Regions from separate parts of the Homo sapiens genome. Here region 2 is linked to region 1. Evidence: fine-mapped expression QTL. A gene starts in region 1. The other region holds a variant in brackets. All regions are shown on one strand. Distances are between the middles of the regions. Region 1 holds the start of NR3C1 (nuclear receptor subfamily 3 group C member 1). Region 2 overlaps NR3C1 (nuclear receptor subfamily 3 group C member 1).

Region 1 (16,355 bases):
TCTACTTGAGAACTTGCAGGAACATTTGAACGTAAAATTTTGTTTTGCACCATGTTGACACCAATTCCTCTCTTAAAGAGATTGATCAGCAGACATAACTTGTCTACTTTATGGCAAGAACCCTGTGAGCAAGACCTGTGTCTAATACTATGGTCTGGTACACTGTTCACTGCATTGCTTTAGCAACTTCAAAACTCAAATTCTTTAACAGAAGATTCAGTTTGAAGAATAGGGCTCTTTGTTAGTACTTCTGCTTTTAACTCTTTAATCTCAAGCTAACACTTAACGAATTTACAAATAAGGCAGCACAACTTTTGACTATGTAAGTAAGGGTATCATTTATTGTAATATAAGAACATATTCTAAAACAGCTGAATGACCATGCACAACACAATATGATATTATGAGACATTATACTCTCCTGAATTTATATAATTTTTCGTTAAGATATCTGTTAATGAGCAACATTATTTTAAAAATGTTAAATAAAATCCTCACCGTTGGCCAATGGGATACTGAAAACCACTATTTAAGGAAAAAACCTGAAATGGTTACGTACAGATGTCACTTAGGTTGTCTACCTTTCCTACTTTCAAAAGGCCACTTAAACTTATTCATATAAAAAAGCACATGAATCTTTAGAGAACACATATAAATCAATGAAGATTTACATCTATTAATCTACCTTAAATGTACCATTCTTAAGAAACAGAAAAACACTGATCTTACCTTGAATAGCCATTAGAAAAAACTGTTCGACCAGGGAAGTTCAGAGTCCCCAGAGAAGTCAAGTTGTCATCTCCAGATCCTTGGCACCTATTCCAATTTTCGGAACCAACGGGAATTGGTGGAATGACATTAAAAATAGGCTTCTGATCCTGCTGTTGAGAAAGGGATGCTGTATTCATGTCATAGTGGTACATCTGTCCTCCAGAGGTACTCACACCATGAACAGAAATGGCAGACATTTTATTACCAATTATATTTGCTCCAGGAAAGCTTGCCTGACAGTAAACTGTGCCCAGTTTCTCTTGCTTAATTACCCCAGGGGTGCAGAGTTCGATGAAATCTTCTTTTTCTGTTTTCACTTGGGGCAGTGTTACATTACTGGGGCTTGACAAAACCAGATCTCCATTATCCTTAATTTTGGGTTTAGTGTCCGGTAAAATGAGAGGCTTGCAGTCCTCATTCGAGTTTCCTTCCAAAAGGAATGAATCGTCTTCTCCCGCCAGAGGAGAAAGCAAACAGTTTTCATCTATCAACAGGTCTGATCTCCAAGGACTCTCATTCGTCTCTTTACCTGGGGACCCAGAAGAAAACTCCAAATCCTGCAAAATGTCAAAGGTGCTTTGGTCTGTGGTATACAATTTCACATTGCCACCGTTGGTGCCAGTCTGGCCCTTCAAATGTTGCTGTTCTGAAGATACATCAGAGTGAGTTTTTGGAAACTCCTTCTCTGTGGGGGCAGCAGACACAGCAGTGGATGCTGAACTCTTGGGGTTCTCTGGAACACTGGTCGACCTATTGAGGTTTGCAATGCTTTCTTCCAAAAGCTTTAAGTCTGTTTCCCCCGAGGAAAGGCTGATTTGGCCCTGCTGTGGGAATCCCAGGTCATTTCCCATCACTTTTGTTTCTGTCTCTCCCATATACAGTCCCATTGAGAGTGAAACTGCTTTGGACAGATCTGGCTGCTGCGCATTGCTTACTGAGCCTTTTGGAAAATCAACCAAAAGTCTTCGCTGCTTGGAGTCTGATTGAGAAGCGACAGCCAGTGAGGGTGAAGACGCAGAAACCTTCACAGTAGCTCCTCCTCTTAGGGTTTTATAGAAGTCCATCACATCTCCCCTCTCCTGAGCAAGCACACTGCTGGGGTTTTCTTCTCTACCAGGAGTTAATGATTCTTTGGAGTCCATCAGTGAATATCAACTACAAAACAAAAAACAAAAACGGGGGGAAAACATCATAAGCTCTAAAGTCACATTATCTTCCTGATCCGATTAGTAAGAGGCAGCTTGTTAAATGAACCTTTTAGTTAACTCCGAATCAAATTCTTTGTTACCAGAAGAGTAGTTTCTATCTTCCAGAATAAAAAGCCATGTCCCCTGCTCCCATTCAGCATGCCACATTTAAAAGTACAATGCAATCCATTTGCACAGCTGAGGGCAAAAGTGTATCGAACTAAGCTTGGCTATTCATCCTGCCGCTCACTGAACGTGTAGCTTTGTTAATCACAGACATTATAATTCATTACATCTGATTATTCTGAAGGTTCAAGTTGATGTCAAAGTATTTAATTTCAAAAAAAGGAAGTGTGATCATTAAAATTCCTACCTCTTTTCAATCACGGCTGTTTGCTTTTCTGAGAACCAATACATATAACATTTGATAAATACTATGCTAGAATTCTCAATCCCTAATTACTTCCAAATTTCCCTCCTACCAGCTAGTCACACATCCAAACCTTTGAGTACAACCAACTGGTGAACCATGCACGTTTTCTTTGAAAAATAAACAATGCTGATCTGCTTATCTTCCGACAGGCTGGGAAAAGGCTTTTTAACCCATACTTCTGACTGGATGTGCCTACCTCCAAATTTTGGATATATGAAATGAGATACACTTTATATAGGCCAACTAAAATTTAGATTTTAAAGAGCAGAAGAGAAGGTGTAGTAGTTTCTCACTACGTTGTTAGCTTACATAACTTAAATATAGCTGACCCTTATCATAACTCACAAAAACATCTAGATTAAGCTACATTTGTTTACATTGCTTGAGATCCTCAATATGAAATGCTATTACATCTCTAAGTTCTTTCCTTTCCAAACAAATATCGAAGTACTGAAAAATGGAAAAACACAGAACCGTAAAATCACATTCATATAAATTCAGGTACAACTGTATCCAGTAAAATGTTCAAAATAATTTTCTCTGCCTTCACCTATCCAAACCTTCACCTATCCCAATTCTCAGCCTATTCTCAAGAGAGTAAGACTGTTAGTATATCGTTAATCAGGGTGTTTTAAGAGATGGGCTAAGACGGAGAAGCGCATTTGGGACACTATAGTCAAATCCCGTCCAATAAAAGGTAACTTTTCCTATGCGATGACGTTAGGCAGCATAAATGTCACTGGCCCTCACTGAAAAGTGAATATGAAGGTAGAGAGAGGGGTGTGGACTTGCCACTACAAATCTTGAGGGTAAACTGCTTATCTCCCCACCTCTCTGCCCCGTTTATCTGAGGCGATAACGATCTCTAAACACGAGGTATCGAATGGAGCCCAATGAATTTCCATGCCGCTTTTTTGACAGCTGCCTTCAAACCCGAAACCAAAACAATATTTCCTAAAACGAAAACGCTCCCTCAAGCGACATTATCCCCCAGTTTAAGTTGCAAATAACCCAGCCACATTAATTGGCCCTAATGAACCATGCCAGAGGGTCTTAAGTGGTATTACAAGGTTGCAATTATCAAGTCTGCAACCCCAAACGTCAAACTAGCACTTGTAAAAATCGCAGCACAAAACCATTACGGTTACAGGGGGTCTTTTTCTAAAAGGGGCCACTTAGAAACCTCAGGCGCGAATTAACAACAAACGCTAAAGAGCAAGCCCTTGCGGGGCGGGGGTGGAGAAGAGAAAAAAGTGCGAGGTTAAAAGAGAAGTACGTCCAGACCTGTTGAGTTCTCTCTCCGACACGCCCACTTCTAACAGATAACGCCGGCCCCGGCCGCAGTCTCCAAGTTGCGGGCTGTCAGCCCCCCGCGTGTGCACCCTCACGCGCCCCGCACGCCCTCCTCAAGCCAGGCGCCGCCGGGGCCTCCCCGGAGCCCGGGCTCGCGCTCGGGCGCGCCGGGGTGGCGTGCAAATATTCGGGCGAGTAAAATTCAGACGCGGCTTAGCGTTCACCACGAAAACGGGTGTCGGGCGACCCCCTTGGAGGGAAAGGGGACACTAGGGGGAGAAAAGAGGCCAGGATTCCCGCGAGGAATGAGAGGCTCGAAGCCCCCGGCAGTTCGACAGGGCTCCGCTCGCCGTCCGAGGTCAGGTTCCTCCCCCTCGGCCCGGCCAGGGGACGCCTGCGGAGGGAGAGGAAGAGGCCAGCGCTGTCACCCGCGCGCTGCCCTTTCGTCACCGTCGCCCGGCCCTTGCCAGCCCCCCACCCCCACTCCCCGAGGCTAATAAAAGTTTGTAGGCTCCCGCGGCGGCCCCCGAGTTGTCTCCGGTCCCAGCGGCACCTCGGGGGAGCGAGCGCGCCCCGGCCCCCTCCCGCCTCGCTTCTTACCTCTGGCAGAGGAGCCGCTCGCCCGCCACCGTCCGCAGTTCCCGCCGCAGCCGAGATAAACAACTTAGCTTGTGAACGCAGAAGGAGCAGGAGGGAAATATATTTTTTTTTTCTAAAAAAAGGAAGTAAACAGCCGCCCCTTTCTCCATGGGTGGGGGGAGAGCCCCTATTTAAGAAAGTCTCCCATTGCCCAGCTGACAAGCCAGCCCTCCGCCCCGCGCCGGGCTCCGCGGGTCGAGGTTCCGGGCGCGCGTGCCCCGTCCCGGTCCCAGCTGCTTCGGCCGCTCCGGCTGCGGCGTCTCCTTCCACCCACAGAATCCGTCCCCGACGGGCAGGCGGTGACTCGGGCTCCCGTCACAGACACGAGCTCGCAAAATGGAGGAGGCGGCGGCGGAGGGAAGAGAGCGCGGACACGCGAAAGGGCAGCCCGGCCTGGGCGAGCGAGCGGGACCGAGCGGGGAGCGGGTGGAGGCGGCGCCACGGCGCGCACACACTCGCACACACGCGCTCCCACTCCACCCCCGGCCGCTCCCCGCCCGAGGGGCCGCGCGGCGGCCGCGGGGAACGATGCAACCTGTTGGTGACGCTTGGCAACTGCAGGGGCGCCCGCGGTCCCTGCCCCCACGCCCTCCGCGCGGGCCCCGCCACCCCGGCCCCGACGGCGCCTGCACGCCCGCGTCCCCTGGCGTGGCCGCCCCGCCCGGTGCGCCGCGCTTCGCCCCCCGCCCCCAACTCCCCAGGAAAAAGGGTGGCGGCGGCAGCGGCGGGGGCCGACCTGGTCTCTCTGGGGCGGCGTTAAGAGGGCCACCGAGTTTCTCCAGTTTCTTTTCTCGCTACCTCCTTCCCGCCCCCGCCCAGCTCCGCGGCTCCAGACCCACTCGGGAGCTCGCTCTGCCCCTTGGCGGCAAGCGCCGCCAGTGCCCCTGCGGGTGACAGCGGGCGGGCCACAAGAGCCGGGGCGCCTCCCGCGGCTGAGCTGCGTGAGTGGCCCGCGCCGCCGCCGCCGGGCCGAGTTGCGTGAAGTGTGTCACTTCGAAAGGGGCTACGGGGTTGCACGGAAACGGTGCCGCAGCGTCTCGGCCGCGCTCGGGGCCGGGCGGCCTGACACGCCCTCTGGGGAGGCTTCAGGGAAGGGACGGGATAGCGGGGGTCGGCGCATACGTACTTTGGGCCCGGGGGGAGTCGCGTGCCGGCAGGTCCCCCACCACCGCATCATCTGGGCGGCCGGGTCTTCAGCTGCCGCCGCCGCGCTCTCGCACTGGGAGAGAAGTTGCAAAGCAGAACCCACCCTCCCCCGCGCCCCGACCGTCCCCCACCCTCTTCCCCGAGTCTGCGAGGCGGCGGCGGCGGCAGAAGGAGGCGCCGCCTGCCAAGTTCAACCCCCACCCCTCCCGCCCAATGTGCTCACACTCGAAGGAAGTTGCACGCCAAATGCAAAACCTCCAGCGAGCTGGATTTCTTTGCACTTTTTTTTTATTATTATGATTAAGGAAAGCAGGGGGCGGCAGGCTTAAAAGCAAGTTGCAGGCGAAATAGTAAGTTGCTGGCGAAATATAGCCCCCCTTCCGAAACTCCTGACCTCTTCTTCCACCCCGGCCAGGGCCCGCGTCCAAGTTCCCGGTGCAGGCCCCACCCCCGAATCTTGACATTTGCTGCCCTCGACTCTGTGCGTTGCTCACCCTATCACGTTCATAGGACCCCTGCCCCTACAAATAAAACAAAATACAGGCAGCTTTAAAATGCCAGCGTTCAACTCCCTACAGATGTTCCTGTTAGGAGCTTCCCCCTCAGTCCAAGGGGAAGGGAACTCGTGGTCCGTCCTGAGAAAGGAGAGGGCCGTGGGGCGAGGGGTGCCCGTGCGGGAAGCCCCCGCCCCAGCTCCCTTCCCCAGCTCGCCGCGTCGGGAAGGCTTGGACGATGCCGGGACCGAGCCTCCTACCTTGTGCGGCACAGATTATGATTTTTGTGACTCTGGGAAAGGTTGTGCTGTGTGGGTTTAGGGTTTGGGGAGGTAACTTTTGCGCCCCCACAGGTGACATCGCTTGCCAGCTCCTGACACGGGCGGGGGCTGCCGCAGCTCCACCTAATCCTGCTCGGGCGCTCGGCCACAGCCACTCTCTCACCTCCCGCCGCGCTCAGACTGACGGCGGCTCCCCCTGCTCTGACATCTTGAAGACGATTGGGGAAGCGCGTCCCGGAAGCCGCCCGCCGCCATCTTGGTAGGGTACAGTGTCGCCAGCCCGTCCCCGCGGCCACCATCTTGGCAAAGGTTCGCGATCGCGGGTAGCCTAAGCCGTCCTTCCTTGGTTCTCAAGGGTAAACGGTTCCCTGTGCATTGTCTGATGTGAAAGGAAAGAAGTAGGCTTTCAGCAAGCCTCTTGTCCGGAGACGATCTACGGGGGCCGCCTCCAGAGGATTCTGGAGCCGCCATCTTGGCAAAGGAAGAGATACTCGCCACCTCGGAAAAGAAGAGGGAACCAACCGTATGCCAACGTAGAACCCTCAGCCAGAAGAATTTTTATGAAGGGCGCTGAGCAACTCCATGTTAACAAAACCCCCTTCTGGACCCAGAAGGCAGACTCCGCTTCTCCTGTCCCTTGGCACAAGTCAACTAGAAGGAGGCCCTTGCTTTGGATGCTCATCTGTGAGGCTATGAGAACACTGCTTGACCTAGTTGCCCGTTTTTCCAATTTCTGAGCCTCAAGCACTAGAATGAGATGTCTTTCGTTAATTTGGCCCCTAAACTACCAACAGTTTCATGGGAAACAAATCAAGACCCAACCCTACAATAATGTTTTACACGTTTTAAAAGTGAGTTAAATAGCCCATGCTAATAATTATCCTTGTACACTGCTTAAAATGATTAAGAATTCTATTTATATATACATGTATGTATACATATGTATACACATATATATTATATACATATATATGTATATAATTAAGGGGACAATACAGTTGTCTAATAGAACACATCTCCCCATGCCATTAGCCTGTCTCACTGCTGAATCTCTGCTCTAAGAATCCACCTCATCGCTCATACATGCTCAAATCCTTAGTGGTAGGTACTCTGCTTAAATAATTTATGATTTCACAAGAGTTCCCAATTATTCTCCCTTCATTTTTTTTTCTCTGCAGATCTTAATGGGGAAGAATACGTAGTTTTAAATATGCCATTGAAAACGTTTTTAATTGAGCAAAAAAAAAAAAAAACTTATCCTAATTTCTCTCTTCAGCAATCTAAATGTGCCTGTTAATTTTTTAATTTGATAGCAAAAAAATTCTCATTCTTTAGTCTTTCACATTCATTTGGAAGCATGCATGAACTATAAGTTAACCCCTCTTTTTCAGAGTAATACAAATAGTTATGATTTGTGGCTAACATTTATTGATCCCCACTCTTCTGCTGCCCACTTTTGCTGACAACAATTAAATGAGATAGGTATTGTTATTCGATTTTTCAATATGAGGACAACAGGCTTACAGAGGTTGATGCTTGTCTAAGTTCACATGGCTCCTATGCATTAAGAGAGGAATTAGACAATATTAAAGTGGTTTTCCTCACTGATCTCAATCATTAACATGAAGTAGTATATCAATTCTGATAGACTACTTACAATATGTGCTTACGGAATTTAATTGAAGAGATGAACTCCAGTGTGCCAGAAAGGACGTGAGATTTAGCATTATAATAATAACACAATTCTAACGAAAGTCAACATTTATTGCGCATCTGCTGTCTGACAGACACTATTGAAAGTGTTTTATGCACAGTATCCTAAGTCTTTAGGTATGGCATTTACTAATCTGTAACCCTGGGAACTTATAATTACTACAAGAAATAGGATGAATCCCTATCTGAGTGGGAAGGTATTTGATTGTCTTAGAAGCAGAGGTGGAAATGAAGGTGATGTATTCAGACTCAGTCAAGGCAAGGACCTGATCTATCTTGTCATAGCTTTATGTCCCACTCCTGGAACACAGCCCACTACATAGCAGGCACCCAACAAATACATTACAGGGTTATAATAACATTGAGTCAACTAGTTAACTAGATGTAAAATCACTTTTACTGGGTTATTGTTGTGGCCAAATGGGTTAATAAAAAGTGTACAGATAACCCTCAAGATCCTCATTTTTATTGTTTTGTGTTTAAACATCTGAGTGCTCCCCCCACTTTTTTTTAAAATAAACTAGATTAGATTCTTGATTGTATGTTCTTATAGTATTCTGCATACTTTGTTAGCACATTACAATGATAGTTCATTATTTGTGCCCTCATTTGTTATTTCTCTGTATCACCCACCAGAACATAAGTTCTGCAAAGGCAGGGACTGTGTCTGTTTGTTCACCCCTGTATCACTAGTGCATAGTTGGTGCTCAGTGGGTGTTGGTTAAATGAATGAATGAAGATAATATATGGTCTTAGAGACTATGTCCTAAGGCCAATAAAACCTTAAGCCTGACTAATAACCAAACCACTTGATACATTGATTTCAGAAACTGATATATTACCCAAGTGAGTTCTCCCATTCTCTTCATGTTTTGTCATCTCCATTCCCACTAAAATAATCCAAGCTGTACTGCCAGATTACCCCTCCAAAACATCAACTAAATCAGGCTGTGCTCCTTCTCAAGTATATACAATAACTCTTGATTCTAGTGCTACACAGATCCCAACTCCCAGTATGGTATTTAAGATCATCACCTTTACCTACCCCTTTGTAGAAAGTGAAGCCTTCTAGTGGATGTGATTGAACTGGAGTTTAATTTAAAAATTAGTTAAAAGAAGGAAATAATTTTAAGAAAGATAACTTGCAAACTTTAAACTTTTGAAACTTTTGAAACCTAAAACCTGTGATTGAACATTTATTTTCTAATCTTTTGATGAAGGTCTAAAGCTTTTATGAGCCCACTGACTGGAGTTCCATGTCTTCTTTAGTGTGTGTATAAACTATACCTGTAATGCATTGATATAGTGTAGCAGTTAAAAGCCAGACTATAAAGGCCAAATACAGTCTCCACCACTAAAAGGAATGTAACCTTGGGCAGGCTAACTCTCTGTGCCTTTTTCCATCATCTGTAAAATGGGGATAATAATAGTACTGATTTATAAAGATTAAACCAGTTTGATATATGTGAAGTGCTTAGACGAATTCCTGGGTCATAGGAAGTATTTGCTCATCATTAGCAATTATTATTCATCTGTAGAATTACTATTTTCCCCCTTTTTTTTAAACAAAGTAGAACAAGAAATTAAAGATACACATTCAGTATCCATGACCTGAAATGCTTAATACTGAAAGTGTTTTAGATTTTGGATTTTTTTTTTTCTGATTTTGGAATATTTGCATTATAATGAGATATCTCGGCCATGGGACCCAAGTCTAAATAGGAAATTCATTTTTTGTTTCATATACACCTTATAGCCTGAAGATAATTTTATACAATATTTAAAATAATTTGGGGCATGAAGCAAAGTTTGTGGTAAGTACTTCCATGTAGGATTTTTCATTTGTGGTATCATAACAATGCTCAAAAAGTTTTGGATTTTGGAGCACTTCAAAATTCAGATTTTCAAGTTAGGGATGTTCAATGTGTACTTTTAGAATAATTTTCGTGCAGATTTCTAAATTTTTATGATTCCTCACTCCTGCCCCCACACCAGTCTTTTAAAATTGTCTTACATCCACCTTACTTGACGCAACTGTAAGTCAAGGAAGGCTATAGGGCATCTTTCCATTTAGATTTTATAGAACAATTTTTTACACTCATTTCATCATTTTACTTAATATTTAATCAAATTAAGTAAGTACAGTAATAAGCAACAAATGGCATAAACATGTTTGGGAAGCAAAAGCACCAGGAACTGTTGGTAGCTCAACTGGTGGGAGCAGAATCGTGTGAAGTGCAGAAGTGACCATGGTTCCAGTGTTCAGCGCACCCTGGGCATCAATCCATTGTTTTCCAGGGAGACTGGAGAACTGGATCAGTTGAGATCGATATTGAGTAGTGTCTGTTACACGATTCTGTTAAAGAAAGGACATAAGACACCACATTCATTCCCATGTCTCCTGTTGTTTATCACATATATTTCCTCTTACATAAGCATACTTCTTTGTGACTTATTTTCCTATAGTCCGTGATTCTTTGTCATGGCTTCAGTTTCCATTTATTCTTTTTTTCTGTACTCTCTCACTTTAAATGTGTGATGTTAAATATAAATGGGAACCATGTATACGTGTATTGTGTACATGTGTATTGTGTATTTTGAACATGTTAAGCCCACACAAACAGCTTTTATTGGTGGTTAGAACTTACTTTAAAAAATTATTCCTGCAGCTATCATAGCTATTATTTGTCTCTTTAAAATAATATCTTGACTTTGGAAAATACTTCTATTCCTATTTAACTTTATAAGGTAAGAGGTTCAAGGGAACCCAGCTGAGCTTTGAATGAGCCATCTCTGTCTGCTTCAATATTTGTATTTTATGCCAGACATGCCTATTATAAACAATTCACACTAGTACAGCAAGTTCTTAATCATAATGAACTCCACTTTGGTATTCCTCGTTGTAATTAGAATTAACATTCCCGCCTGGACTGGGAAATGCTAAATTATTACTAGCTTTCCTGCTGTTTTGCTGTCTTTCATGATGCTTTCAATGATTTCATCATAAGCAACCTAAAATATCACAATTTGTGCTCATATGCGTGAAATGCCCAATGGGTGTCCTGGTTGACTTTATTCTTTATGCTGGCAGAACTTAGTTTAAGCAATACCTGATTCAAGGATGAGGCAGCTATCAGCAGATAAATGAGATAAATGTTGCCATAAGCAGGAACTCAATGTTTTTAATGTTTGGAGGCATTAGAGCAAGCACACTGAATAATTGCAACAAGTATTACGTACTTTGTTTTTTCATTTGTGGCATTTGTGGCTCCTCATATGTCATTAGCTTTCTTCCTTTCTTGATTTAATCTCCTTTTCTCTCCCATGTTCCTTTGGTAAAGAGTGTTTCAATCTGCCCCGCTGCTATGTGGAATCTTTCAGCTCATTTGAGAACCTGCATTTCCATTTTGGTTCTTATATCTTCTTATTAGAGCACACAGGGTTTTGTTTTGTTTTTAAGCTAACTTAGAAATAGTGGGGTTGAGATGAAAACATTCTTGGTATAGGGATCCCTTAACAAGATAAGAAGATACTTCATATCAAACTCCAAAGTGCTACAAAGGACATTTGTCACCATTGAAAAAAAAATTGTTTTGAGATCAGTATTTGTCAATTAAATTTTCTCTATCCTCTTGTTGAATTTTCAATACAAGACCTGGTTTTTAGACCCTATTCTGCCATTTACTTACTTGAATGAGCCTGGGGTAGGCATTTGATTTTTCTCAGCCTTGTTTTTCAATCTGTAAAGGAAGGATAATGATATCTACCCCACCTATCACACAGGAAGTAATGTAGGCCTTACATGGGATCATGTGTTCAAACGTTTTTAAACACTAAGCTTTATTTGGAAAACTTAGAGGAGCTTATGGAATTTTTGCACTATCACTTCACCACAACAAAAATGAAAATTATCATTGTCTCTTTTCACTTATTTCCCAGGGAATCAGTGCAATGGGCAGTCTGGAATTTTAGGCAGGGGAGTGATAATTCAGTAGTGCACCGGAAACAATTGTACCAGCTTGCAAGCACTGACTGTTAAATTTTCAGAGATTTTGTAAGTTGGTTGTTAATCACAGTCATTATTAAAAACCAAATTATTTATAAACTCACAATCAAATATTTTAACAACAAAAATAAATGCTGAAGACTTTACTGCCTAATTATTTTACTCCATTTTACTATTATCTATGTTCTTAAAGTTATTTCTGTCTGTTCTGTATAAGAACATACCATACGATGGTATGATGCAGCGTATCCCTTCCTAACGCTGCATTCAGAAATGTTATTTTGGTAGTTTGAAATCAACCATGGTGGAGTACCTATACTATAGAAATTGGGAAACATGACAAACCAGAGCTTGATTTGTTTTGTTGATTGTCTAGACTGACAGAGTAGAAGAAATTTTAATAATGAAGATTGAACTTAAAAGTGCCTTAGTTTGTGAACACAAAAACTTGAGGAAATATTTTTCTAGTACTTGAAAGCTATTATCAGCAAAAGAAGTCACTTCTGTCATTAATGAACGAGTTTAGTTCCAACATCCATTTTTGTTGCTTCACTTTTATCTCGCTCATTAATGTAAAAATATCAACCAACATTCATGTTGGGACTTCAGTACCATGAATGACTTCTTTGCTGATTGGATATTAATCAGATATTTATTTGTGGTCTGATTTTGCCAAACGTGTTTGAATTTTAGCTGTAGGTTGGCTATGGACACAAATATTCTGCAAAAATCACTGAAATGGTTCTGTGAAAATCACATGGCCATATAGAATTTACTATTAAGAGTGTTATATTTTTTCTTGCTTTTTGTAAATTATGTGATACATATATGTAAAAATTATAAAACACATAGATACTCTGTTCCCCTCAGGAGCTGTTAAACATTTACTAACACACTAATGGACATAATCTAATTTACTATTTGAAAAGCTCGTTCTGCTTGCGATGTGGAGTATGAGTTGTAGGGGCTAAGGGAGAAAGCAGGGAGAGCAGTGAGGAGACAGGCACATTGGCCCAAGGAAAGATGACGAAGTTTGTATTGGTTGCAATGGCAGGGGAGCTGGGGAGCTATGGTTGGACAGGAGAGGTATTTTGAAGGCCAAAGGTAAGCAAAGCAGTCATCCAGCAGCTCTATGAAAGAGATGGACTTCCAGGAACTTTTTATGCTAAGAGAAGACCTTCTGGTGAAGAGTAAGCAGGCTTAGTTGAATGGGGTGAGTGCATAGAAAGCTGTGCCAGAGAAAAGGAGTCAGGGAGGGTTGTAGTAGGAAGTAGGAGATGTTGGCAGTTCTAGGATTTCAAGGTAAATATCTTTATATCAGATGGAGAAAGTTAGGCTGGATTGTTAGTCAAATGTCGAATTGCCTCAAAGTGCAGGGGGGGAGGGGGGAGGGGAAGCCCCAAATACCAGTAACATGTTGCAACTGGAACTCACATACTAAGCTACTCATCTAGTAATTTCATTGATTTTTGCCCACATGGAGGGGTTATTTGTTCATCTCCATGCCTTGAGCCTATCCCAATTTATAGTAGATTTTTTTTTCTCACATTTGGCAATTTTAATTATAAAACTCTCACACTGAATCACCCTGTGTTACACATATATTGCTGTCCCCTTTCATGCTTCTCACTTCTTCATTCCTATTTTTCTTTGCTATGCCATAAAGAAGGACCCTACCAAAAGCCACCCTATTGTCTTGCCTATTAGTTATCAGAAAACTTCTGGCAACCACAGTTTTCCCCACTTTCCCTGCTTCCTCCATTATAACCTACAATCTATATTCCACATTACAGGTTTTTTTGTTTGGGTTTTAACATTTTTCAAGAGAAGTTATTACATTTTATGGAGTTTAAAAAATAGTAAATGTTTTGCAAAAGAAAGAATCATGTCTCCACATTCACCCACCCTTTCAACCCTAATGACCAGAAGAAGGAAAGATTCTCAGCTATACAGCTACCAATGACTAACACTTTGAGGATTCAGTTTGGATATGTTGTTTACTTTGGTCTTCTGATGATTAGCTATTTTAGGCATGGTTTCAATCAATCAGGGAATGTTTATTAATAGAAGAGACTTTCTTAATTAATATTCTCTCCATTCATTCCTTCAACAAAAGAGAATTCCTTCAACAAAATACAATTCCTTCAACAAAATAGCAACTATTATATGTTAGGCCCCAGTATAAGGCTGCAGGGATATCAAAATGATAACAATCTCTTCTCTGGAGGAAATGGAGACAGATACGGTTACAAGTCATTATAGAACAATGCAGACTTACAGAAATGTGTTAGATGCATAGGGCACTTCATAAGCTTCAAGAAGTCATCTGGTGTTTAAGGTTAGGAAAATGGGTGTGGATATGGAGATGGTGGTCACGGAGGGTTTCCTAGAGGTTAGCAGGACTGACTTGAATTATGAAGGGTTTTCTTCAAGTTATTTGTTTTTTTTTTCTCTTGAAGATAATACTTCTAATGGAAGCTTGTAGACAACATTCATTAGGTCATTTTTTGGTGCATTTATAAGAAACCCCACTGTTAAAAACAGAGTTTTTTGATTCACTGAAAAGTCCAGGGGAAGTTTAATTTCAGGAGGCATGACTGGATTCAGGGGCTCAAATGAAGTCCAAAGGGCTTAAATTTTATCCCTTAGCTTCATTTTCCTGTTTTGTTTTGTTTTGTTTTCTGGAAAGATTATCTCCACCTCTCCACCTGGTGGCCTGTGGCACCTGGATTTAACACATCCTGCCAGGTTAGTAACTTCAGTGGAAAGAGTTCTTTTCCCATAATTTTAGTAGTTGTTCCTGGGAGGGGTTTCACTGGTCTAGTTGGTTCAAATGCTTATCCCTGGACCAATAACTATGACCAAGGGATGTCAGGAATGTGTACTATGATGGGCAAAGCCTAGCTCAAGTGCCCACCACTGACACCTAAGAATGGGGTACAAATGAAAGAGAGAGAAGAGGAGGTGCTTCTCCAAATAATTGGAGATTTTAAATTTAAATAGGAGAAAAGGGATTTCTGGGCATGCAGAAAAAAACCCAGATGTCCATGACAATAGCTTTTTATCAAAATATTAACAGTGACATAAACATCATATTTTACATTTTAAGAGAATAGACATGACTTAAAATGTTTGTCAGCAATGGAAAGAACCCTGAAAATTAAGTATAGTTGTTACAAGTTTTATTGGTTTCACTTCCTGCCTTTAATAGAATGTGGGTTTGTACTTTGAAATTTCAAATGTTACACAAATGAATTGATGATTGCTTTGCAGAAATAGTATCTCCACTTAATTGGGCCTTTTTTGGGTGATGAAGTGATGTTTACAACTTTTAAGCTAGTTTTATCGTCTTCCACTGAAGGAGTTTGTCTCACTTGAATATGATTCCAACAATATGATGGGTATAGGCGGCTGCAGTGAGCCTCTGTCTGCTTATTTTGCTCCTTCTGTCTTGACAAGCTGAATGTCACGCAAATGTCTCAAGCCTCTGCACTGGGCAGGCAGGAAGCCAGAACCAGTAATAGAAGCAGTAGGCACTCTGTGAATACTTGCTGATTAATTTTAGCTCCATAGGCCTGATGGGTTTTCCATCCCTATAATTACCATCAGCAAATAGTTATTGAATGATGTCCAGCATATTTTTATTTCCCTTTTCTTGATCCTGATTTTCATTTTCTATTTTACCTCTCTGTGATTTTATCACGTGTGTTTCTGTTCATCAGACTAACAGAGCCTCCTGTGATTAGTTTATAATCACTCAGTTTTATTTCTACCTATGAGATATCTTTATCTGTCTGTCTAAATTTGTCTTTGTTATGACCCAGTTCAAGTTCTTTCTGGAATTAGGGAAAGGATGAAGTGTGAAAAAAAAGGAATTAAATAGTTCGGTTATTGAATGGCTATTTTGTGCTTGATGCTATATTAGTACATTTCCACATTTGCTTTACAAGTTAGTCTTTCTTATTAGAAGTAATGCTTAACAAGCCTACAAGTACTGACTGGGCTCACTTTATAGAGAAAATGGAGAGCAGTGAAGGGTGAGGAGGTTATGAGTTATGGATATGACAAATGGGGAAAGATCTTACAGAAGAGAGATTGGGGCCATCCAAGAAAAATCGTTATCTTTGTGTAGACGGCATTAGAAGGATGAAAAATAACTTTAGATATTACTTATGCCTTTAAGAAAAAAACTTCAAAAGATGCTAGAAAATAACACATACTTATTGTAAAAATCCAAACATACAGAAGGTAGAAATGTATAAAGGTAAAAACTTCCTCACACAATCCCATTTTGCAGATGTAACTATTTTTTTCTTTTTATATTTTGATGGCAACAAATTTGTAATTATTTTTGAGTTTTTATGTATATTCCAGATCCCCCACCCCATTATT
Region 2 (8,000 bases), 25 kb before region 1:
CAATCCATAAAGGCTGGCAGTTCAACTTAAAAACAAAAAAAACTAAGGGCTTCTATGCCAAATGCCTTTACTCTCTACACTAAATTTCACCCTTAATAAAAAATTACACCCAAATGTTACCTTCTTTTCTTCTAAGAAAAGAAGCTTACATGAAAGGTAGCTATGGTGCGGAAAAATTCAGACTTGCTTGTGTTCACAAATAGATAATGCCAGAGGTGGTGGTCTCAGTTTCCAGTTCTTTGAGAACACTTACCTGGTACCTCTCCTAAAAGAGGCATTAACTCTAGTCAACATCTCTGACTGTCTGAATTCTGAGATATCTGGCCCTTTGTATAAATTAAATTAATCTAGTTTTACTGTGTGTGTGTTTCATCTTTTCTATTACTACTAGTTGGATGAATTTAGGTGTTTAGTCCTCATCCAATATGACAACTATGTTTAACACAAGAAATTTATGTGATTTTATTTCTATATGGCCCTTTTAATTTTTTAAAAGCAGTCATCTTTCAATTGTTAATGTGGAATGATACTGTTCTTTTTCCTATCTTATGTAAAACCTGATTTATAGGAGTGATAATTGCCACATATAGTATTAAGGCACCCAGTGTGTATAGGATGGACTACAATTCTTTAAAAAAAAAATCTAGACTGGGACTGTGTCTAATGTTACACCTCTCAACCCATGAATCACAGGGAATCCTACCCCAAGGAGACTTTTGGATTTGTATCTCTTAACTCTGAGCCTCAACCATTCTTTTCTTACAGGAAAATACCCCCAGTGAGTGGTCACTTTATTGGGGCCACAATTAGTCAAATATTTCTCTTCCTTTCCCTAACACACTTTCTCTTCCTTTTTAATTCAAGGAAGACACTGAGTCTTACACCTTGAATGGAGTGTGGGAGCCAGGTTTGCAATAATAAAAGCAGTTACATAAGTGCTTTGCATTTACCTAGCCCTTTCTTTAAAATACATAAAGAATCTGAGGTTCAGGTGAATCAATCATTACTGAATGCCTATCAGGAAGATTAACTTCTGCAGGATTGCAGAAATAAGTGATGGAGCTGGAATCTGAACCTTTGTTAGTCTCTAAATTCCAAGATTTTATCCTTCTGTCACAATGATTCTGCCTTTCCACCAGAGGCAAGGTTCATGAACAATTCGGATATCACAGAAGGATCAGAATTTTAAATACACCTGATTCCTACAACTACTGTGACAAATCGCAAAAAAATAAAAATAAAAAAACACCTCTCCCTACAGTCACACTCCTTTGCAGTGTAATTGCAGCTCCTCCACCCACTTGAATCTAGACTAGCCCCGTGATTTGCTTTGACCAATAGAATGTGGTAGAAATATAGTTGTTCCAAGCCTAGGTCTTAAAGAGTTTTGCATGGTTCTGCTGGTTCTTTTGTAACTCTAATGCTACTGTGTGAAAAAGTTAAGGGCAGCCTACTTTCACCATTCATTGCTACAGCCAACCAGCCAACTGACAGCAGATACGCTGAATGTGCCCAGCTGAGATAAGTTCAGCTTGGCCAGATCAGCAGAACTGCCCACCTCATTTGTAGACTCATGAAGAATAATAAATGGTTGTTATTTTAAAGCCACTAAATTTTAAAAGCAGTCAGCTCTAAACTGTTAATATGGAAGGATACTATTCTTCTTGGAAAGATACTGTTCTTTTTCCTATCTTATGTAATATCTCATTTACAGGAGTGATAATTGCCAAATCTAAGTGGGAAGGCACCCAGTATGTTTGTTATAGAGCAAATACTAACAGATACAACAAACATAGCTACTTTGAGCAAGCAGAGAAAACAAAAGATTGCTTATAAAGCTTATAAAAGAGGGCCCCGATATGCAAAAGCTTGATATTAAGACAAATATTTAACAAATCCTTAATTATTTGACTTAAATTTGCAAAGTAAGACTGAAAAATAAGACCTGATCCATTCAAGAATTTGCTAGGTGCTTTGGTGTAATAAATCTACTTATAAACATCAGTAATTGTGTATTTGAAAATCTACATTAAGAAAGTAAAGTCCTTTACACTGTGGGATTTAATTCACACTGAATCATACAAAAACCATTTTTTTTTAAAGTCTTTATTTGAAGAGGCAGAACCTTAGTATTATGACGTTCAAAGTGTTAGTATTCTCTTTAAGAAGAAGCCAAAGTAACTGGAGAAAAAAAGCAATGAAGTTATTTCTAAAACCCCAAGAATTTCTCAAGACATGAAAGGCTTGCTCTTCTTCAGACAGTTTTATTCTAATTTACCTTAACCCCAAGTTCCTCAGAGGTTCAAGTAGTTGATGAGTGACTGAGAGAGGAACTTGTGTGGATTATAGGGCAGGGGGGTGGGAGAAGAGAGCCAAATAGGAAGCATATGCATCACATATGCATTTTTCAGCTCCTCTTCAAGCTTATGGCCGAAATATAAATCTGATAATGGTACCACAAGTTAAAGTATCCACTTCCTAACTATAATCAATTAGTTTGAAAGTTATGCCATCTGCAACAAACTGACAGCTAGTATCATACTGAATGGGGAAAAACTGAAAGCCTTTCTTCTAAGATCTACAACAAGACAAGAGTGCCCACTGTTATTCAACTGGAAGTACTGGAAGACCTACCTAGAGTAATCAGACAAGAGAAAGATATAAAGGGAATCCAAAATGGAATGGAAGAAGTCAAATTATTCTTGTTTGCAGACTGTATGATCTTATTGGAAAAGCCTAAAGACTCCACCAAAAAAATATTAGAACAGATAAATTCAGTACAGTTACAGGATACAAAATCAACATACAAAAATCTGTGGCATTTCTAGATGCCAACAGAGGACAATCTAAAAAAGAAATCAGAAAGTAATCTCATTTACAATAGCTACAGATAAAATAAAACACCTAGGAATAAACTCAACGAAAGAAGTGAAAGAGCTCTACAATGAAAACAATAAAACACTGAGGAAAAATATTGAAGAGGACACACAAAAAAAGAAAGATAGTCCATGCTCATGGATTGGAAGAATCAATATTGTTAAAATGTCCATACTACCCAAAGCAATCTACAGATTCAATGCAATCTTTATTAATAAATATCAATGACATTCTTCACAGAAATAGAAAAAAAAAATCATAGGATTTATATGGAACCACAAAAGCCCCGGAATAGCCAAAGCCATCCTGAACAAAAAAAATAAAACTGGAGGAATTACATTATCTGACTTCAAATTATGCTACAAAACTATAATAACCCAAACAACATAGTTCTAGCATAAAAACAGATACACAGACCTAGAGAACCCAGAAACAAATTCATACACCTACAGTGAACTCATTTTCAGCAAAGGTGCCAAGAACATACACTAGGGAAAGGACAGTCTCTTCAATAAATGGTGCTGGGAAAACTGGATATCCATAGGCAGAATGAAACTAGACCCCTATCTCTCACCACATATAAAAATCAAATAAAAATGGACTAAAGCCCTAAATCTAAGACCTGAAACTAGGATACTAAAAGAAAACATTTGGGAAGCTCTCCAGGACACTGGTATGGGCAAAGATTTCTTTAGTAATACCTCAAATGCACAGGCAACCAATGCAAAAATGGACAAATGGGATCACATCAAGCTAAAAAACTTCTGCACAGCAA[C/A]GGAAACAACAAAGAAGCAACCCACAAAATGGAAGAAAATATTTGCAAGCTACCCATCTGAGAAGGGATTAATAACTAGAATATATAAAGAGTTCAGACAACAGGAAAAAATCAAACAATCCAACTTAAAAAATGGACAAAAGATCTGAATAGACATTTCTCAAAAGACATACAAATGGCCAACAGGTGTATGAAGAAATGTTCAACATCCTTAATCATCAGAGAAATGCAAATCAAAACTACAATGAGATATCTCACCCCAGTCAATTATATATCACCCCCACAATTGCATGCTTGCATTAAAACATGACCTGTACCCCATAAATATATATGCCTACTATATACCCATAAAAATTAAAAATAAATTTTAAAAATAAAACTGAAATAAAGTTAAGATCATAATGAAGCCAGTTTGAGATCAATTAATGAAAAAGGCTTATCTTATGAACAGCGTGTAGTATGGCACAACAGACAGAGTTCTCAAGTAAAAACCTTTGGCATTAAGGAGTTGTCTAATCTTAAAACACATCACTAAAAATAACTTCAGGAGTGCTTTTTAAGTGCCAGACACTGTGCTATGCAGTTTACATGCATCACTTTGTTGTGCCCATTTTAAAAGTGAGGAAACAGAGTTTACAGGGTTATGAATTTGGTCAAGTTCACACAGTTGTTAGTCAGATTCATACCCAGGGAATCTGAAGAGTCCTAATTCTTACTCACAATACTGGACCTAGTTTCCTCATATGAAGTGAGATCTGGATATCAAAACTAGCTCCATTTGGAATTCTATGATTCTTTGACAATGACGGGAGCATACTTCTTCGTGGTTTGTGTACTGGGTACAGGGATGAAGACTGGCACCTTTCACTAAAAACAAATGTCCCTGGGGTGTATGCTGACATGAATCCCTATATCTAATCCTTTCCTCGTATATGCAAATACAGAAATGGTGAGGCTAGTTTGGGAAACAAGTCTACTGCCCACAGTCATCCTGGTCAGTTCACTACCTCTCAGGTAAGGTCTGCCTGTCTTTGGGCTTTCTCTTCAATTCCTGGCAGAGCAGGCACTAAGTAAATGCTGAATGAACGGAAAAATATTCCACAGTTTCTGCTGGAAAGAGCCTGAAATTGGATGGCATTTTAGAATGTGTCCTACAAATGTCTTGAATGTAACACCCATAAACCATAAGCTTCAGAAAGGCAGAAACAACTAAAGCTTTGTCCACTGTTGTATCCTCTGCAGTTTGAACTGTGCCTCACATATAGTAACTGCTCAATAAAAGTGCTGTTCTTATTATTGTTACTAGATTCTTACAGTTCCAGTTTTCCCTAAGAGAAAGTAAAATATATGTATTAAAGGCAAGGCCATGCTATTTGCTTCCTCTGTGGTTCTTTGTTCAAACAGCCCTACCTAAATTGAGTACCTTAAGTGCTAGGTGTTATAGTGAAAACGTTCCTTGTCCTTAAGGAGACTGGATTTACTTGGAGATAAATTAGAAATATATAAACAGTATTAATTCAACAAACATTTACTGGGTACCTACTATGTGCTAATGACTAATTTAGGTAGAAAGAACTGTGTGGTCTGTGGCTGCCAGAGGATACCATCAGATGAGGTGGGGGGCTATGGCCTGGACTACATAAAGGAAAGCATACAAAATAAGTGGCACTAAATTGGTCTTGAACATTACACATATTGTTAAAAGCAGAGAGAAGGAGCCTGAATTCTAGACTGCAACAGTCCTCAGCTATGTTATATGGCACACTGGTATGTTGTTATCAATTTAGGACTCATGGCAAGGAATTTGTTAGTAATAATGATTTATGTATTTTTATTATAAAGAAAAGTATAAACACTGCCAGGGGGAACTGTGACTTGCCATAATCCTCGAAAAAAGTAATTTGGAAATATCTGTTAAAATTTTAAATACACATACCCCTGACTCAGGAACCCAACTTTGGGGAAATCTATTGTATTATTCCGTTTTCACACTGCAATAAAGAACTACCTGTGTCTGGATAATTTATGAAGAACAGAGACTTAATTGACTTACAGTTCCACAGGCTTCAAAGGAAGCATGACTGAGAGGCCTCAGGAAACTTAGAATCCTGGTGGAAGTTGAAGGAGAAGCAAGCACATGTTCACATGGCAGAGGAGGAGACAGAGAGAGAAGGGGGAAGTGCCACACACTTTCAAACAACCAGGTCTCATGAGAACTCACGATCATGAGAACAACAAGAGGGAAGTCCACCCTTGTGATTCAGTCACCTCCCACTAGGCCCCTCCCCTGACATGTGGGGATTACAAGTGATTGAGATTTGGGTGGGGACACACAGCCAAGCCATATTATTCTGCCCCCGGCCCCTCCTAAATCTCATGTTCTTACATTTCAAAACACAATCTTGCATTCTCAATAGTCCCCGGAAGTCTTAACTCCTTCCAGCATTAACTCAAAAGTCCAAGTACAAAGTCTTCTTGGGTCAAGGCAAGTCCACTCTGCTTATGAGACTGTAAAATCAAAAACTAGTTACTTCCAAGAAAAAATTGGGATACAGGCATTGGGTAAATTCCCCCATTCCAAACTAGAGAAATTGGTTAAGACAAAGAGGCTACAGGCCCCATGCATGTCCAAAAACCTGCAGGACAGTCATTAAATCTTAAAAATCCAAAATGATCTCCTTTGACTCCACGTCTCATGTCCAAGCCACGCTGACACAAGGGGTGAGCTCCCAAGGCCTTGGACAGCTCTGCCCTGGTGGCTCTGCTGGGTACAGACCCTGCAGCTGCTTTCACAGGCTAGCATTGAGTGCCTACAGCTTTTCCAGGCACATGGTGAAAGCTGTCAGTGGATCTACCACTCTGGAGTCTGGAGGATGGTATCCCTCTTCTCACGGCTCCACTAGGCAGTGCCCCAGTGGGGTCTCTGTGTGGGGGCTCTAACCCCATGTATCTCCTCTGCACTGCCCTAGCAGAGGATCTCCATGAGGGCTCTGCCCCTGCAGAATGCATGGACATCCAGGCATTTCCATACATCCTGAAATCAAGGCAGAGGCTTTCAAGCCTCAACTCTTGCCTTCTGCACACCCATAGGCCCAACACCACATGAAGGCTGCCAAGGTTTGAGGCTTACCCCCTCTGAAGCAACAGCCCAAGATTATCTCCTGGCCCCTTTTAGCCACAGCTGGAGCTAGAGCAGCTGGGATGCAGGGCACCATGTCCTGAGGCTGCAGAGAGCAGCGCAACCCTGGGCCTGGCCCACGAAACCATTTTTTCCTCCTAGACCTCCAGGCCTGTGATAGGAAGGGCTGCCATGAAGGTCTCTGACATGCCCTGGAAACATTTTCCCTATTCTACTGGCTATTAACATTAGGCTACTCTTCATCTATGCATATTTCTGCAGCTCACTTGAATTGCTCCCCAGAAAATAGGTTTTTCTTTTCTACCACAAGGTCAGGCTGCAAATTTTCCAAACTTTTATGCTCTGCTTCTCTTTTAAACCTAAGTTCCAACTTCAGACCATCTCTTTGTGAACACATATGACTGTATGTTGTTAGGAGCAGCCAGGCCACATATTGAATGCTTTGCTACTTAGAAATTTCTTCTGCCACGAACTCTAAATCATCTCTCTCAAGTTCAAAGATCCACAGATCTCTAGGGCAGGGGCAAAATGCTGTCAGTCTATTTGCTAAAGCAAAGCAAAAGTGAACTTTGCTCCAGTTCCCAATAAGTGCCTCATCTCCACCTGAGACCACCTCAGCCTGGACTTTATTGTCCATATAACTATCAGCATTTTGGTCAAAACCATTCAACATGTCTCTAGGAAGTTCCAAACATTCCCTCATCTTCCTGTCTTCTTCTGAGTCCTCCAAACTGTTGCAACCTCTGCCCATTATCCAGTTACAAAGTTGCTTCCGCATTTTCATGTATCTTTATAGCAATGCCCCACTGTCCTGGTACCAAGTTTCTGTACTAGTCCATTTTCACAGTGCTATAAAGAACTAACTGAGACTGGGTAACTTACAAAGAAAAGAGGTTCAACTGACTCATAGTTCCACAGGCTTAACAGGAAGCATTACTGGGAGGCCTCAGGAAACTTACACTCACAGTGGAAGGCAAAGAAACCATGTTTTCACATGGCAGAGCAGGAGAGACAGTGAGTGAAGAGGGAAGTGCCATACATTTTCAAGCAACCAGATCTCATGAGAACTCACTATCATGAGAACAGCAGAGGAGAAGTCTGCCTCCAGGATTCAATCACCTTTCACCAGGCCCCTCCCCTGATATGTGAGGATTATAATTCAAGATGAGATTTGGGTGGGGATACAGAGCCAAACCATAGCATTTATAT

Evidence for each region. PIP is the estimated chance that this variant, and not a neighbour inherited with it, causes the effect.
Region 2: its variant is fine-mapped to the expression of NR3C1 in whole blood (TOPMed, PIP 0.98).

Annotation. Positions count from the first base shown.
Region 1 is chr5:143,398,927-143,415,281 of GRCh38, forward strand. NR3C1 (nuclear receptor subfamily 3 group C member 1) reads right to left here and starts at 4,760. Exons shown (of 9, transcript NM_000176.3): 1 at 4,285-4,760; 2 at 730-1,926. The coding sequence starts at 1,913. LOC128966704 reads right to left here and starts at 9,635. Exons shown (of 2, transcript XM_054328421.1): 1 at 6,408-9,635; 2 at 5,740-5,990. The coding sequence starts at 6,715. The coding sequence ends at 5,960. RefSeq lists silencers at 109-178, 3,756-3,855, 4,066-4,145, 4,386-5,655 and enhancers at 1,617-1,736, 5,661-6,428, 5,706-5,775, 5,816-5,955, 6,356-6,595 and 2 more.
Region 2 is chr5:143,378,310-143,386,309 of GRCh38, forward strand. The region is part of intron 2 of NR3C1 (nuclear receptor subfamily 3 group C member 1); the gene reads right to left. Among named protein-coding and RNA genes, the nearest start is that of NR3C1, 21 kb to the right of the region's middle. The variant C/A (reference allele first, on the strand shown) is at 3,653.